Regions from separate parts of the Homo sapiens genome. Here regions 1, 3 and 4 are each linked to region 2. Evidence: fine-mapped expression QTL. A gene starts in region 2. Each other region holds a variant in brackets. All regions are shown on one strand. Distances are from middle to middle.

What was found. PIP is the estimated chance that this variant, and not a neighbour inherited with it, causes the effect.
Region 1: its variant is the best candidate, but not a certain one, in a credible set for the expression of ADK in monocytes (Fairfax 2014, PIP 0.52).
Region 3: its variant is the best candidate, but not a certain one, in a credible set for the expression of ADK in transverse colon (GTEx, PIP 0.58).
Region 4: its variant is the best candidate, but not a certain one, in a credible set for the expression of ADK in whole blood (INTERVAL, PIP 0.81).

The regions. Positions count from the first base shown.
Region 1 is chr10:74,725,403-74,730,052 of GRCh38, forward strand. No RefSeq gene overlaps it. Among named protein-coding and RNA genes, the nearest start is that of KAT6B, 99 kb to the right of the region's middle. The variant CAAA/C (reference allele first, on the strand shown) is at 2,549.
Region 2 is chr10:74,149,387-74,153,386 of GRCh38, forward strand. ADK (adenosine kinase) reads left to right here and starts at 1,835. Exons shown (of 11, transcript NM_006721.4): 1 at 1,835-1,957. The coding sequence starts at 1,893. AP3M1 (adaptor related protein complex 3 subunit mu 1) reads right to left here and starts at 1,442. Exons shown (of 9, transcript NM_012095.6): 1 at 1,369-1,442. RefSeq lists enhancers at 1,366-1,595, 2,006-2,185.
Region 3 is chr10:74,127,400-74,132,049 of GRCh38, forward strand. AP3M1 (adaptor related protein complex 3 subunit mu 1) reads right to left here. Exons shown (of 9, transcript NM_012095.6): 5 at 2,508-2,593; 6 at 1,709-1,842. Among named protein-coding and RNA genes, the nearest start is that of AP3M1, 21 kb to the right of the region's middle. The variant A/G (reference allele first, on the strand shown) is at 2,746.
Region 4 is chr10:74,299,398-74,304,047 of GRCh38, forward strand. All of the region lies in intron 3 of ADK (adenosine kinase), which reads left to right. Among named protein-coding and RNA genes, the nearest start is that of ADK, 150 kb to the left of the region's middle. The variant G/A (reference allele first, on the strand shown) is at 1,807.

The DNA of each region.
Region 1 (4,650 bases), 580 kb after region 2:
TTTGTGCAGGACGTTGGTAGTAGAGGAGACGTAGTAGAGGAGGCTGTGCCCGTTGGGAGTCCAGAGGTATATGGGAACTCCTGAAATTTTCTGCTCAATTTTGCTGTGAAAATTGTAAAACTGCTCTAAAAAATCAAGTCTATTTTAAAAGAAGGCTGTGGGGTGTCATATTTAAATCTCTGACAGAAAAAAATTAACCAAGAATCCAACAAAAATATCCTTCAAAAATGAAGAAATTGAGATATTCCTAGATAAACAAAAGCTGAGGGAGTTTATTGAAGAAACTTCTCTAAAAGATATGCTAAGTGGCATCCTCTGGGCTGAAATGAAGGGACACTAGACAATAATTCAAATCCACACAGAGAAATAAAGAACACTCGTCAGGCGGGGCGCGATGGCTCATGCCTGTAATCCTAGCACTTTGGGAGGCCGAGGCGGCCTGATCACCTGAGGCCACAAGTTTGAGATGAGCCTGGCCAATGTGGTGAAACCCCATCTCTACTAAAAATACAAAAATCAGCCGGGCGTGGTGGTGCATGCCTGTAATCCCAGCTACTCAGGAGGCTGAGGCAGGAGAATTGCTTGAATCCGGGGAACAGAGGTTGCAGCGAGCTGAGATCACGCCACTGCACTCCAGCCTGGGCGAAAGAGCAAAACTCTGTCTCAAAAAAAGAATAGAAAAGAAAAGAACACTAGTCAGGGTAACCACATAAGTAAATATAGAAGACAATGTTTACATATTATTATTGTAATTCTTCTTTCTTATCTGGTTTAAAAGGCAACTGCATAAAGCAATAATTATAAATATTTGCATATAACCTATAAAGATATAATTTGTGACAATAAAAGCATAAAGAGGGAGGTGAAGCAATATAGGAGCAAATATTTTATATACTATTGGAACTAAGTTGGTATTAATCTGAATCACAGAGAAAAAGCAGATGAGTGATTACCAGGAACTGGGAGAATGGGAGAAATGAGGAGTGACTATTAATGGTTATGGAGTTTCTTCTTGGTGGGTTGATGGTAGTGAAATATTCTGGAATTAGTGGTGGTGGTTTTACAACCTGAATATATTAAAAATAACTAAATTGTACACTTTAAAAGTTGAGTTTTATGGTATATTAATTATATCTCAATAACAATTACTTAGAAACAAACAAAAAGATGGCAGGAGTTGCTCTGTATATCTTAAAGAAATTGAATTTGTAAAGTTGAAAGCATTCCTACAAAAATACCTTCAGGCCCATATGGCTTTACTCATGAAGTCTACCAAACATTTAAGGAAGAAAGAATCCAATTCTACGTATACTCTTCCAAAATAAATTAAAGAAAACATAATTCTTTCCAACTCATTATTTGAGGCTAGAACCAAAACCAGATTAACACATTAGAAGAAAATACTCTGGAATCCCTGTCTCAAAAAAAAAAAAAAAAAAAAAAAAAAAAGTTAACATATCATGATCAAGTGGAGTTTATCCCAGGAATACAGGGCTAGTTTAATCTTCAAAATCGGGCCAGATGTGGCAGCTCTCACTTGTAATCCCAACGCTGGGAGCATATCTTGAGGCTGAGAGTTTAAGACCAGTCTGAGCAATGTAGCAAGACTCCATTTCTAAGTAAATAAAATATTCAAAATCAATAATTGAGCAAGTTGCAGTCGTTTATGCCTGTAGTCCAAGCTACTCAGGAGGCTAAGGTGGGAGGATCATTTGAGCCCAGGAGTTCAAGGCCAGCCTGGGCAACAACAACAAAAGATACCATCTCTAAAAGAAAAATCATTCATTATAATTCACCATATTAACAAAGTAAAAAAGAAAACCATATGATTATCTTGATAGACACAGAAAAGCGTTTGACAAAATCCAATATTCATTCCTAATAAAAACTAAATAAATCTGGAATAGAAAGGGATATCCTCAACATAATTATGGACATCTACAAAAACCCCACAGCTACTATCACACTTAGTGGTGAAAGACTGAATAGTTTTCCCTAAGACTAGGAACAAGACACCTTCTCTCCCCTTTTCTATTCAACGTTGTGCTGGAAGTCCTGGCCATTCCATCAGGCAGAAAAAAAAAGAAAAAAAACCAGCTAAATTGAAGAAGTAAAATTGTCTCAATTTTCACACAACGTGACTGTCTATGTAGAAATCTAAAGGAACCCAGAAAAAAGCAACTAGAACTAATAGGCAAGTTTAGCAAGGTTGAAGGATACAAGATAATACACAAAAATTAATTATATTTCTATATGCTAACAGTGAAAATTCATACATTTATTAATTTATCAAATTAGTAAAATGCCATTTGTAATAGCATCAAAAATATAAAATACGTAAAATACAAAATACAAAATACGTAGAAGTCCTCTAACTGGAAACCATAAAATATTGCTGAAAGAAATTAAATAATATCTAAATAAATAAATAGTCTGGGCACAGTGGCTCACGCCTGTAATCCCAACACCTTAGGAGGCTGAGGTGGGCAGATCTCTTGAGCCCAGGAGTTCAAGACCAGCCTGGGCAACATGGCAAACCCCGTCTCTA[CAAA/C]AAAAAAAAAAAATATATATATATATATATATATATATTTAGCCAGGTATGGTGACACACGCCTGTAGCCCCAGCTACTTGGGAGGCTGAGATGGGAGGATCACCTGAGCCCATCTTAGCCTCCCAAGTAGCTGGGACTACAGGCATGTGGGAGGTCGAGACTGCAGTGAGCCATGATCAAGCCACTGCACTCCAGCTTGGGTGACAGAGTGAAACCCTGTATAAAAAAAAAACTAGATATGCCTTGTTCATGGGTCAGAAGACTCAACAATGTTAAGATATCAATTGTCCCCAAATTGATCTATAGATGCTGATGTGGTTTGGATATTTATTCCCTCTGAATCTCATGTTGAAATGTGATCTCCAGTGTTGGAGGTGGGGCCTAGTGAAAGGTGTTTGGGTCACAGGGGTGGATCCCTCCTGAGTGGCTTGGTGCCCTTCTGCGGTAATGAGTGAGTTTTTGCTGTATTAGGTCACACAAGAGCTGATTGTTTAAAAGAGCTTGGCATCTCTCTCTTGCTCTCTCTGTCACTATGTGACACACCTACTCCCTCTTTTCTTTTCTTCCTGCCATGAGTAAAATCTTTCTGAGGCTGGCCAGGCATGGTGGCTCACACCTTTAATCCCAGCACTTTGGGAGGCCACAGTGGGCAGATCACTTGAGGTCAGGAGTTCGACACCAGCCTGGCCAACATGGTGAAACCCTGTCTCTACTAAAAATACGAAAATTAGCTAGGCATTGTGGCATGCATGGGTAGTCTCAGCTACTTGAGTGGCTAAGGCAGGAGAATCTCTTGAACCCAGGAGGCAGAGGTTGCAGTGAGCCAAGATTGTGCCACTGCACTCCAGCCTGGGTGACAGAGCGAGACTCTGTTTCAAAAAAAAAAAAAAAAAAAAAACTTTCCAGAGGCTTCACCATAAGCTGAGCAGATGACGGTGCCATGTTTGTACAGCCTACAGAACCGTGAGCCAAATAAACTTCTTTTCTTTATAAGTTACCCAGTCTTTGATAATTATAAATTACCCAGTCTTTTTTTTTTTTTTTTGAGATGGAGTCTCACTCTGTCGCTCAGGCTGGAGTGCAGTGGCACGATCTCCGCACCACTGCACTCAGCAGGTTCAAGCAATTCTCCTGCCTCTCAGCCTCTCGAGTAGTTGGGACTACAGGCGTGAGCCACCACACCTACCTAATTTTTGTATTTTTAGTAGAGACAGAGTTTCGCCATATTGGCCAGGGTGGCCTCAAACTCCTGACCTCAAGTGATCCACCCACCTCAGCCTCCCAGAGTGCTGGGATTACAGGCATGAGCCACCGCACCTGGCCAAATTACCCAGTCTTTATAAATTTATAATAAAGGCCTTTATTCAAGGCTCCCTTTATTATAATTTTATTATAAATATAAATATTTATTATTTATAAATAATAAATATTATAAATATTATTAGGTGCTAATATTCAAGACAATAGGGAAAAGACCCAGAAGGCATTTCTTCCCTAGCAATGCAAAACAGACTAACACAGAACATTGATACCAGGAGTGTGATGTTGCTATAAAGATACCTGAGGATGTGGAAGTGGCTTTGGAACTGTGTAATGAGCAGAGGTTGGAAGAGTTTGGAGGGCTCAGAAGAAGACAGGAAGACAAGGGGAAGTTTGGAACTTATCAGAGATTGGTTAAATGATTGTGTCCAAAATGCTGATAGAAATGTGGACTGTGAAGGCCAGGCTGAGGAGGTATCAGATAGAAATGAAGAACTTGGCTGGGAGCAGTGGCTTACGCCTATAATCCCAGCACTTTGGGAGGCCAAGGTGGGCAGATCACCTGAGGTCAGGAGTTCAAGACCAGCCTGGCCAACATGGTGAAACCCCGTCTCTACTAAAAATACAAAAATTAGCCAGGCATGGTGATGGGTGCCTGTAATCCCAGCTACTTGGGAGGCTGAGGCAGGAGAATTGCTTGAACCTGGGAGGCAGAGGTTGCAGTGAGCTGAGATCGCACCACTGCACTCCAGCCTGGGTGACAGGGTGAGACTCTGTCTCAAAAAAAAAAAAAAAAAAGAAGAAAGAAATGAAGAATTTAGTGAGAACTGGAGTAAAA
Region 2 (4,000 bases):
TCAAGGGATTCTCCTGCCTCAGCCTACCAAGTAGCTGGGACTACAGGCGTGTGCCACCACACCTGGCTAATTTTTGTATTTTTAGTAGAGACAGGGTTTCACTATGTTGGCCAGGTTGGTCTCGAACTCCTGACTTTGTGATCCGCCCGCTTCAGCCTGCCAAAGTGCTGAGATTACAGGCGTGAGCCACCGCGCCTGGCCAAGATTCGTAAATTAAGATAATTCTTCATTAACCTCATTCACTTCACTTCTCCTATAGTGTCAATTGAAAGTGTCCCTCTGTCTTTCCCAAATTAATCCTTTCACTTGTAACTTGATCCCATTCCTTTCCTTCTCTTCTGGGAGACAAGACTTTTTCTTGAATCTTCAAATAGTTGCTTGCTTCCTGCCCCCAAATAGATATCTTGTATTCTTTAAAACAAACCCCAAACTTTCCCCCACCTTGCCACTCTCAATAATCTTGCTTCATGCCCCAAATGATGAAGGATTGGTCTACACTTGCAGTCTTTCCTCAGTTACTATTAAAGCATCTCTCTCAAACAGCTCAATGACTTTCTAATTATAAAATCCAACGACCTATTCTGATTTCAGCTTCCTCCTCTGACCATTGCAGCATTTTATGTCATTGATAACTTTCTCCTAAACAAAAATACTTCTTACCCTTTTATATGAAACTTCATCTGTTTTGGGTCTCACCTTGAAAGTCTTTCGGGCTTAATTCTCATAATTTTTTTTAAAGTCTTTCTACAATCTCCATGTAAACCACTGTTTCAAATTCGATAAAACTCAAACTCCATAAAATACCTCCTCCTGTCACTGGCACCATCTTCTTAATCACACATAAGGCTGTAAGTTTCAGGTTCAAACAAATCTACCAAATACAAACAGCCACATCGCCCGTCACTCTTCCACACTCACTGCCACCTGCTCAGCTTAGAACCCCGTTACCTCTCTCCTGAAGAACTGCAACACCCTTCTCACTGCATTCCTCACCCCAGGCTCTTCCAGGCACCACCCGCTAACAGGACGTCTGCTCAGGTCCGTTTGGGGTTTTGTCCTCCAAAGCAGAAACCTGGGACTGAGATTCCTGCCGTCTGTACTCCAGCTCACTATAGAGGGGGAACCCAGTAAGCTTGACCTCCGGGGCTCAGGCGCCTGAGAACACTGGGCTGCAGGTGGACCGCTCCCTTCTGGCCTTGCTGGCGAGAAAGCCCGGAAGGCCGGGAGTGGGGGGGAAGCGAGGCCCGGGCCAACAGCACCAAAGACGCTCCTAGAGCCCAGATCGGAGTCGGGGGCCCCAGCTATTCAGCCTACTCCCGGGTTTTGGAGCTGTCCCCAGTCCACAGATTTCCCGCCCCTCACACTCACCCCAACACCTGTGCCAGTCAGTGATTCGGCGCCGGATCCTCTCCTACCGAAGCTGGAGAAGCCGAGAAGGCCGCGAGGACCCGCAGCTGGAGTGCCCAGGAAATTGCCTGATTAACAGCTTCAAAGACACCGACTCTGTCTACCGTATTAGAAATTTTAAATATGCAGGAAGACCGTAAATGAGAGGAAAGACGTCTCTTGAGGCTTAGTATCTAAATCTTCTACATAATCCAGGGCCTAGAAAAATGGTGGGTTTCTCTCCATCTAGATTCAGGCGGTCATCTGCTGCCTAACGCAGTCTGGGGTCCCTCATGGTAGGGGAGGCGGGGTCAGGAATGGGCGGGGCATTCGCTGTTGGTGCCGACGGATAGAGCCAATGATTGTGGATGACAGCGGCACAGAATGGGCGGAGTCTGGAGGGGCGGGATTTGGAGAAGAGAAAGCGGTGATGCGAAGAGGGGGCGGGACCAGAGAGTGGATGGCAGAGGTGGGCTGTAGAGCCAAAGTGGGGTGGGAGCGCGAAGATGGCAGCTGCTGAGGAGGAGCCGAAGCCCAAAAAGCTGAAGGTGGAGGCGCCGCAAGCGCTGAGGTGAGCGCTGCCGGACTTGGGGAGGAGGGTGACGGCGCTGCAAGCAAGCCAGGGCCCACGTGGGGTTGCACGGCCCCGACGCTGGGTGGTGTCTCTCACTGCCAGCTTGGGGCCAACACGCAGGACCTCCCCCAGCTGCCCGCTTGGCCGCGACCCCTTGCCAGACGTTCTCTCCGTTTGGCTGAGTCCCCGCCTGTCTGGTGCAGCTCCGGCTCCAGCAGCCCTTCGCCAGTCGTGGCCCGCAGGGGGACCGAGCTGGCTGACCGCGCCACCTGCGAGCAAGCCCAGGCTGGGCTGGTGCGACCCCGGAGGGTCGGACCGGAGCAGCGTCTGTAGGCGGCCGCCTTCTCTTCCCGGGGGATGGCGGGAAAGAGGCTCGGCAACTGCTGTACACTGGGGCAAAGTCAGAATTCTTGGGGATTTTTCAGAGTGTTGCGGAAGGGCACGTTGACCTTCCTTTTCGTGCACATTCTGAAAGCCCGTACCTTTGAGGACCCTCTACCAGGGACCCAGACCCCTCCGATGCTTTGCAGGGGCAGCATTTGGATGAATGGATAGGAAAGGTTGATTTCTCTTTTTTATTTACACTTTTTGGCAGCAACGGGGACAGTGCTGCCCCTAACACCTGCCTCACATGTGATTGATGTTGCAACTTTTACTTATGAAGAGTCATTTGTTAAAATATCCCTTCCTAATAAGTATAAAGTGAAGCAGGCAGTCTTTGATGATTTGGAAATGTTCGCTGAAAGGCAGCGATTTTTTTTTCCATCTTAAAATAGACATATCAAACTGATTTAAAACTATTAGGACACTCCTGATTAAACAGGACATATCCCATTTCTTCCAGTATCACTCTTCTTCACCTCCAAAGGAAGGAATCACTCACAATTGAAAAGAAAAGGACACTTAGGGGCCTGGTGGTGTGTTCATGCTGCTTTGAATGGAGGGTGAACAAATCCTTGCCAGTTCCTTTAATGTATTCCTACTACCCTCAAAGGGTTAGTGTGCCTACCTTATACCAAGAACATAAACTTTAAAATAAAAACCCTCAGGATATTCTATTTTTATTTTAAATATTCCAACTATATGCAGAATAAAAAGCAACGGCTTTTGAATCAGACCTACCTGAGTTCAAGGCATGTGCTTTCCCTACTCTGCCCTTTATTAGAGTATTTCCTTATAAGGCACCTCCTTCGCCAAACTGGAAGACAGATGCAACTTTTCCCTACCATCCTACTGAACATATAACCCTTAGATTTCCTTAGATTTTTCCTTAATAAAAATTATTATATATAATGCTGATCCATTTTCACTGTGTTTTCCTATTTATTATCTTGTTGGACAGTTCTGTGATCAAAGGAAGGCAAGAATTATGCCTATTTTACAATTGAAGATATTGAAGCCCAAATAAAACAATTAGTACAGGAACAGAAATAGGAACTAGCTGAGCATGTTTTCTTATACCTGCAGTCCTGGTGCTTTGTGAGGCTGTGGTGAGAGCATTCCTTAGGCAACTAAAATTCACTTTATACAATATGAATTTAGTGCCACCTGTAGACATGAAGTTAAAAGATTAGACACTTGAGTACTGGGACAAATCTCTAATTTTGTGGGGAGACATTTTAGGATCGGCTATTATTACTTTTATTATATTAATTTGCTTTCAGACTCAAAGTGTGATAATGCATTGAGTATTTACACTGAATTTATGATGACTTGCTTGACAGGGGATTGCTACTGGTTTTGGTTAAGGAGAATGGATTATAAAGACTTTGCATAATTTAATGTGCAGCATCAGTGGGAACAAATAATGAGATATATTTGTAGATGTCAGGAAAAATATTTAGATTTAGGGATTTGTGAGAATTTGGTCAGCTCTGGGATAATAATTCTCCACCAGGGGAAATTTTGCCCTCCAGGGGACATTTGGCGTGGTCTAGAAAGATATTTTTGGTAGGGAGAGCTATTGGCACCTAGTGGATGGAATTCAGGGGTGCTGCTAAACATGCTACATAGGACAACCCCCACAACAAAGAATTATCT
Region 3 (4,650 bases), 22 kb before region 2:
TTGGGAGGCCAAGGCAGGCAGATCACTGGAGGTCAGGAGTTTGAGACCAGCCTGGCCAACATGGTGAAATCCCCTCTCTAATAAAAAAAAAAAATAACAAAAAACAAAAATTAGCTGGGCGCGGTGGCAGGTGCCTGTAATCCCAGCTACTTGGGAGGCTGAGGCAGGAGAATCGCTTGAACCCAGGAGGTAGAGGTTGCAGTGAGCCAAGATCACACCATTGCACTCCAGCCTGGGTGACAATAGTGAAACTCCGTCTCAAAACAAACAAACAAAACAAAATAACATAAAACAAACAAACAAAAACAATTGGGGCAAATGGCCCTAGTTTAAAATGAATTATGATCCCACTGAAAAATAATGTAAAATATGTTTTATATAAATGAAAACAGTTCCTATGTGATAAGAGCCAAGAAACAGGCCAGGCACGGTGGCTCACGCCTGTAATCCCAGCACTTTGGGAGGCTGAGGTGGGCAGATCACCTGAGGTCTGGAGTTCGAGACCAGTCTGACCAACATGGAATAACCCCGCCTCTACTAAAAACACAAAATTAGCCGGGTGTGGTGGTGCATGCCTGTAATCCCAGCTACTTGGGAGGCCGAGGCAGGAGAATCACTTGAACCCTGGAGGTGGAGGTTGCAGTAAGCCGAGATTTCACCATTGCACTCCAGCCTGAGCAACAAGAGCCAAACTCCGGCTTAAAAAAAAAAAAAAAAAAAAAAAAGGAAAAGAAAAGAGCCGAGAAATAATTTCTCTGTTTTTGAGTTCTGTCATGATGTTACTCAAATAACTTTTGGTATTTTCAAGAAACAAACTACCTATAACTCCGATCCCCAATGCTAAATTTTTTTTTTTTTTGAGATGGAGTTTTACCCTGTTGGCCAGGCTGTAGTGCAGTGGTGTGATCTGTCACTGCAACCTCTGCCTTCCAGGTTCAAGTGATTCTCATGCCTCAGCCTCCTAAGTAGTTGAGATTATATAGGCACACGCTACCACGCCTGGCTAATTTTGTGTTTTTAGTAGAGACAGGGTTTCACCATGTTGACCAGACTGGTCTAGAACTCTTGACCCCAAGTGATCTGCCCACATTGGCCTCCCAAAGTGTTGGGATTACAGGAGTGAACCACTGCACCCGGCCCCTCAATGCTAAACAGTTCCTTAAAAACTCAACGCAGAGAAGACGTACTTGAAGCAGGTAAATTGGGGAATGTCCTCACGAACTACAGGTAGGTCTGTCTCCTTGTTGGCCACAAACTCTACAGACTATGGTAAGATTATGGCAATGGTTCATGGTTTTGCCCAGGTTATGCATGGTCCGTTTTGCTCTGCTTGCAAAGTACTCAGCTTTCAGAAGCAGAGCAAAATGGACCATGCATAACCTGAGCAAAGAACCAGTGCCATAATTTGACCATGCATAACCTTGCAAAGGACCGGTACCACAATTTTTGCCCAGGTTATGTATGGTTTGCTTGTTCTTGGCTATAGATTTTACTCTAGTCTCACTTAGTACCACTCTACACTCATACATTCAAAGTATACGGATTATTTTAGGTGCGTATTTTCACCCGTTCTCACTGGGTCTCCTGGTGAGCTATGGTTAAAGTGAGCAGTGATGACCTCAAGTACTCAACTTTCAGAAAGAAACAGGGAAAGGTGAGTTGTACTTGATATGTATGATGGCAGATTCTGGCTGATGCATCAACATACTTTTGTGAGCTGACACGGTATGATATGAGTCGGAAATTTCCATCTGGAGGAATAAATGACAAAACTCTTTCAGATTCCCAACGCTTGAACCGGATGCAGGGGTGAAAGCTGACATCATCCAGAAGCCTAGGGTTCTGCCAGAAAAACAGAAGACAGTCGTTCATAGACTATAATGAATATGGGAACTGTACTCAGATACCTTGACAAATATGTTCCCTGAAGATAAAGCAGTCATGGAAGAGTTTATGACCACATCTACACAACCTTATAGTTTCATAATGCTTTAAAGTTTGTAAATATTTTATGTACATTATTTTATTTGAATTTCAATAACTATAAAGGAGAAAAGGCAAGTAGTATTATTTCCCTTTAACAGATTAAAAAACTGAGGTTCAGAGGACTTAAGGTCAGAGCAAACTGGTGACAACACCAGAAGTCAGTTCTCTTAATTGTTCCTAGCAGTATATCATGCTGACTCTAAAATGATACAAAAGACCAGTGTCCTTTCATATCAGCAAAGCAAATAATTATTCAGTAAAAATGATACTGGATATTTGCAGAAGCCAGCCAGCCAATTTTAAGCCCCTTCTAGCACACTCAGGCAAAGACCTCCCTTAGTCTTTCCACAAAGACCACGCTCATCATGTAAGCGACTGTCTTAGGAAACTCTGCTAGGAATATTTCTGAGATAATCCTTTGCAATCTAAGATGCAAACTTATCTCAATATTTATCATTTCATTTAGTACTTCACATGTATTAGGCATTCAAGGGGCTATAAAACAGGAGAATAAAACTTACCATGAAAGAAAGGGAGAGATCAGGCATTCCAGATAGTTTAATGCAAGCATCAATGACCCCCTGAATTTCTGCAAAGACTGTAGATCCTGAAGAAAGAAAAAAAAAAGGAAGATAACATCAATGGAATATGAGTCTTCACTAGACCTATCACTGTATCTTTTTATTTTTATTTATTGTTTTTAGAGACAGAGTCTTGCTCTGTTGCCAAGGTTGGAGTGCAGTTGTATGATCATAGCTC[A/G]CTGCAGCCTCACTCCTGGGCTCAAGTAATCCTCCTGCCCTAGCCTCCCAAATAGCTGGGAATATAGGTGCGTGCCATGACACCTAGCCCAACAATCACTACATCTAGAACAATAGAGATACCCTCTGGGTGTCAGATTAACTGAAGCTTTACATCTCTATTAACAGGTCAGGGGACAAGGTCCATACTTAACTCTGGCTGGAATATAATAATAATTCTTTTATTTTTAAGAGATAAAGTCTGACTAGCTAGTCCCAGCTGGTCCCCAGAGTAACTGAGACTACAGGTATGCCACTGTAGAATATAATTTTTTTTTTTTTGAGACAGGGTCTTGCTCTGTCACCCAGGCTGGAGCGTAGTGGTGCTATGATAGCCAGCCTCAACCTCCTGGGCTCAAGCAATCCTCCCACCTCAGCCTCCCAAGCAGCTGGTACTACAGGCATGCACCTCCACGCCTGGCTAATTTTTGTATTTTTTTTGTAGAGACAGGGTCTTGTTATGTTGCCCAGGCTGGTCTCAAACTTCTGGGCTCAAGCAATCCGCCTACCTTAGCTTCCCAAAGTGCTGGGATTACAGGTGTGAGCTACCATACCCAGCCAGAATATGCTAATTCTAAGGAAAATTAAACTGTTTCCTTTATGGAGCCAACCCTGTAAGATGACTGGATATGAGTTTAAAACATTTGGCAGGACGCAGTGGCTCATGCCTGTAATCCTAGCACTTAGGGAGGCTGACGTGGGTAGATTATCTGAGCTCAGGAGTTTGGGACCAGCCTGGGCAACATGGCAAAACCCCGTTTCTACTAAAAATACAAAAAATTAGCCAGGCGTGGTGGTGTGTGCGTGTAGTCCCAGCTACTTGGGAGGCTGAGGCAGGAGAATCGCTTGAACGTAGAAGGCGGAGGTTGCAGTGAGCTGAAACCACAACACTGCACTACAGCCTGGGCGACAATGTGAGACTCTGTCTCAAAAACAAAATAAAACAAACCAACCAAAACCATTTTCAATAGAATTTTATTTTTTTTTAATTTTTTTTTTGAGACGGAGTCTTGCTCTGTCACCCAGGCTGGATGGAGTGCAGTGGCGCTATCTGGGCTCACTGCAAGCTCTGTCTCCCGGGTTCACGCCATTCTCCTGCCTCAGTCTCTCGAGTAGCTGGGACTACAGGCGCCTGCCACCACACCCAGCTAATTTTTTGTATTTTTAGTAGAGATGGGGTTTCACTGTGTTAGCCAGGATGGTCTGGATCTCCTAACCTCGTGATCCACCCGCCTCAGCCTCCTAAAGTGCTGGGATTACAGGTGTGAGCCACCGCGCCCGGCTTCAATAGAATTTTAAAATGTGGCAAGTGTATTATGAAATGGACTAAGTTAACTTTTAAGAAATAGGATCCATAATAGAAAGATATCTCTTTTTTTTTAAGAGACAGGGTCTCCCTCTGCCATCCAGGCTGGAGTACAGTGGTGTGAACATAGTTCACCACAGCATTGAACTCCTGGGCTCAAGCAATCCTCCTGCCTCAGCCTTCTGAATAGGTAGGATTAAGGAAGCCATGCCTAGCTAATCTTTTAAATTTTTGATAGATATGGGGTCTTGCTATGTTGCCTAGGCTGGTCTTGAACTCCTGGGCTCAAGTGATCTTCCTGCCTAAGCCTCCCAAAGTGCTGGGATTACAGGTGTGAGCCACCGTGCCTGGCAAAAATCTATTATTCTATAAGATGGAATGTTATAATGAAAAGGGGACTCATGGAAGAGAAGATATTGACTATAATTCACAATAAGCCATCATTACATATTAACAAGTTGTGTGACCTGGAACAGTTCACTTAACCCTTCTGGGCTTTCCTTATGTGTAAAATAAATGTAAAGGAAGGACTAGATTTTTTTTCTTTTTTCTTTTTTTGTT
Region 4 (4,650 bases), 150 kb after region 2:
GCTGAGGCAGGAGAACTGCTCGAACCTGGGAGGTGGAGGATACAGTGAGCTGAGATGATGCCATTGCACTCCAGCCTGGGTGACACAGCAAGACTCTGTCTCAAAAAAAAAAAAAGAAATATATATATATATATAAAATATATTAAAATACATATTTATATCATAAACTTTGTAGATTTCTCCACTTAACCTTTTTGCTCCATATATATTTTAAATATACATTATACATATATATGGATCAGAAAAAAGGGTTAATTGGAGAAATCTACAAAGTTTGTGAAACTATAAGGTTGTAAAGCCTATGGCTATTCATTGTATTATTTATTAGCAGCTATTTTGTAGACAACATTTGAATCTATGATTTATTATTTGAATATCATTTATTATTGAACCAGTATTATCAACAGTGAACTTCATTTGCTGTATGAAGAGATAGTTCTGTAAGTTTTTATCAGAAATTTAAGCTGTATATTTGACTTGCCTGACCACCCATCAGTTTGATTACTGCAGTTGTTTGAGCTTATGGTCAAGATTCAAATTTTTCTAAACAAGGAGAAGCTCCTTCAACTACTGTTATTGCATATGAAATGGCTTTGAAAATTAGCTTTTACTGAAGACTTTATATTGTTTCTTTTCTTTCTTCTTCTTCGTCTTCTTTTTTTTTTTTTTAGAAACAGGATCTTGCTATGTTCTCCAGGTTGGTCTTGAACTCCTGGACTCATGTGATCCTCCTGCCTCAAGCTCCCAAAGTGTTGGGATTATAGGTGTGAGCCATCATGTCCCTGGCTAATACATTATTTCTTAATGATACTGATATTGTTGTTGTTTGTTTCTTTCTTTCTCTCTCTCTCTCTCTCCTTGTTTCCTTCCTTCCTTCCTTCCTTCCTTCCTTCCTTCCTTCCTTCCTTCCTTCTTTCCTTCCTTCCTTCCTTCCTTCCTTCCTTCCTTCCTTCCTTCCTTCCTTTCTTTCTTTCTTCTTTGTCTCTTTTCTCTTTTCTCAACAGGGTTTCACTCTGTCACGCAGGCTGGAGTGCGGTGGTGCTGTCTTGGCTCACTGCAACTTCCACCTCCCTGGTTCAAGCAATTCTCCTACCTCAGCCTCCCAAGTAGCTGGGACTACAGCCTCATGCCACCATGCCCAGCTAAGCTTTTTGTATTTTTAGTAGAGACAGGATTTCACCATGTTGACCAGCCTGGTCTCAAACTCCTAATGTCAAGCTATCCACTCACTTTGGCTTCCCATAGTGCTGGGATTACAGGTGTGAGCCACTGTGGCAGCCTTTATATGGTTTCTTAATTTTGAGGCATACCAGTGCTTATATGTAAAACTTATACTATGGTAAAGTTATTTGACAGCAGCTAATGTAGTTTGAATCACAAGTAATGTCAAGCTGCTTTATATACAATGTCCCATTCTGTCAAAAGTTAAAACAAGAAGTGATACTTCTATTTCCACACACATTTGTAGCAGATGTTTGTGGGCTCAAACTATAGTTTTAGCAATATTGATGCCAGAGCAGAGATAACTTCTTTATTTCAAAATCCATCTAACACTGCAATCACGGAGCTTCTACCTTATGTTACATTAGAAGTGATTAATCTGCAATCTACATGCTAAAGGGGAAATATCAAGAAAAAGCTCTGATAGAATTCTATAAATGCTTTCTAAGTGATAAATATGCTTAATTTAAATCATATGCTATTGGATTTATATCAGTATTTGGGAGTATCTATTTGTATATAGAGACATTCAAAGTTGAAATATGTGAAATTATTATAGATCAATGTTAACAGATGAATATTTGC[G/A]ATCAATTTTGATTGATAACAGTAACTTTGGCCAGGCACAGTGGCTCACACCTGTAATCTCAGCACTTTGGGAGGCCGAGGCAGGTGGATCATGAGGTCAGGAGTTCAAGACCAGTCTGGCCAATATGGTTAATCCCCATCTCTACTAAAAATACAAAAAATTAGCTGGGCGTGGTGGCGTGCGCCTGTAGTCTCAGCTTCTCGGGAGGCTAAGACAGGAGAAACGCTTGAACCCGGGAGGCGGAGGTTGCGGTGAGCCCAGATTGCACCACTGCACTCCAGCCTGGGTGACAGAATGAGACTCTGTCTCAAAAAAAAAAAAAAAAAAAAAGTAACTTTAAACACCAATTAAATGAAATGTTATTTCCCCTAAAAGAATTACATTCTTCTCATTACTAAACCTGATAAACAAAAAATTTTATTGTTATTAATATTCCTAAATTTGTCAGTAAAAGTTTTTTGTTTTATAAGTACCTAGATAATGTCCTTGGTTTTTTTCTCATTACCCATAGAGCCCAAACTATTTACTACCTGGCCTTTTACAAAGAAAGCTTTCTGACCCTCATCTTCTTCTAAAAGAATAATAGATGTCTAATTAGAAACCAGTTATGCATTGGGTTGAGTATCCTTTATTAGCATTTTAAAGTTCTTGCATTTCGAAAATACTAAAAATACTCAAATTTAGAAAAGTTAGTTGTCTTCATAATGTAATTTAAATGTTTGAAGTGTTACAAAAGAGATTCACCTGCAATTAAATATCAGCAGAGTGTGTCCTGTACCCTTATCCTGCAACACTTTTCTCCTATAGTAACTGAATGACTTTGGAATTCAGGGCTTTGTATTTTTACCTTTTTTTAAAGCTTATTTTTGCTTTCTTTTCTTTTCTGTTTTTTTTTTGTTTGTTTGTTTTTTTTTTTTTTTTTTTTTTTTTTTTTTTTTTTTTGAGATGGAGTCTTGCTCTGTCGACCAGGCTGGGGTGCAGTGGCGTGATCTTGGCTCGCTGCAACCCCTACCTCCCGGGTTCAAGCGATTCTTCCACCTCAGCCTCCTGAGTAGTTACAGGTGGGACCACCATGCCTGGCTAATTTTTTGTATTTTAGTAGAGATGGGGTTTCACCATGTTCCCTGGGCTAGTTTCAAACTCCTGAGCTCAGGCAATCAGCCCACCTCAGCCTCCCAAAGTGCTAGGATTATAGGCATGAGCCACTGCCCCCAGCCTGTTTTTGCTTTCAAATGGACTGTTGATGGTTTTCTCAGAGTGCTTTACTTTTGAAGTCCAGTTTGTACTGGAAAGAATTTATATTCCAGGCTGGGCACAGTGGCTCATGCCTATAATCTCAGCACTTTGGGAGGCCAAGGCAGATGGCTCACTTGAGTCCAGGAGTTCAAAACCAGCCGGAGCAACTTGGCAAAACCTCGTCTCTTAACAAAAATATTTTAAAATGAGCTGGTTATAGTGCTGCATGCCTATGGTCCCAGCTACTTGTGGCACTGAGGTAGGAGGTTGGCTTGAGCCTGGGAGGCGGAAGTTGCAGTGAACCCAAATCGTGCCACTGCACTCCAGCCTCCATTACAGAGGGAGAGCCTGTCTCAAAAAAAGGAAACGAATTTATATTCCACATTTTACTGAGTCTAGTGTGAGTTTTTGTTTAAAAAAAAACAACCCAGGAATAATTTCTTCAAATTCATAAGCATGGCAGGCAGTTTTATTTTAAATTCTGTGGGAAATATGAATTTAAGGATCTCATGTACCATGCCTTGATAATCATTTCTCTGTAATGTATATTTTGGCAAATGATATTGTTATGAAACATACTTTTGCATTAATATTAACTTTATGCATAATAAAGATGCATCTTCAGTTTTTTGTTTGTCCTATGAGAGTTTACAGCTGGGGACATCTTTTACAAAAGTATATTTATAACCTGTTCAGAAGATATGAAACACAATAATGAGATAATCACCTATGTATTTTTCAGTTAGCAGTTACAAAAGGATTATTGACACTTATAGTTGTTAATATCTCAGTAAAAACATACTCTTGTGCTTATTTTAAAATTGAACGCTAGTCTATATTTTTAAAGTTTCCTTTTATGGAATATTTTGTCTTTTGGCACTTTGCATCTGGATTATAGTTCCCCCATTTAAGAAAGAAACCTGTTTCTATTCAATAGGATTAAAAACACACTTTCAGTTTTAGAGCAGATTTATCATCTACCCTTCAGGCTATTCTTTAATATGGAGCTCTTAAAAATGAGTATATTAAGATATTCCCCAGATGTTTTAAACTTCAGCAAACTTGTGGTTTTCTTTATTTGTAGTATTTGGAAGATGAAAGAAAGTATCTCCAGTATCTAAACACTTTTCATATTGGTTTTAATGTTGTTTTTTTTTTTTTTTTTTTTTTTTTTGCTAGAAAGGCATGCACAAGATAAAGCTTCTACACTGATAAATTTTCAAAGTCCTTGCTTTTAAAATATCAAGCTGGGTGCAGTGGCTAACGCCTGTAATCCCAGCACTTTGGGAGGCTGAGGCGGGTGGATCACCTGAAGTCAGGAGTTCGAGACCAGCCTGGCCAACATAGTGAAAACCCGTCTCTACTAAAAATATAAAAAATTAGCTGGGTGTGGTGGCTGGTGCCTGTAATCTCAGCTATTAGGGAGGCTGAGGCAGGAGAATCGCTTGAACCCGGGAGGTGGAGGTTGCAGTGAGCTGAGATCGCACCATTGCACTCCAGCCTGGGCAACAAGAGTGAAACTCTTGTCTCAAAAAAAAAAAAAGGTATTGTCAAAATGAGAGTTGTATTAGCAGTAATGTAAAAGTAATATTGTATGTCTGTATACT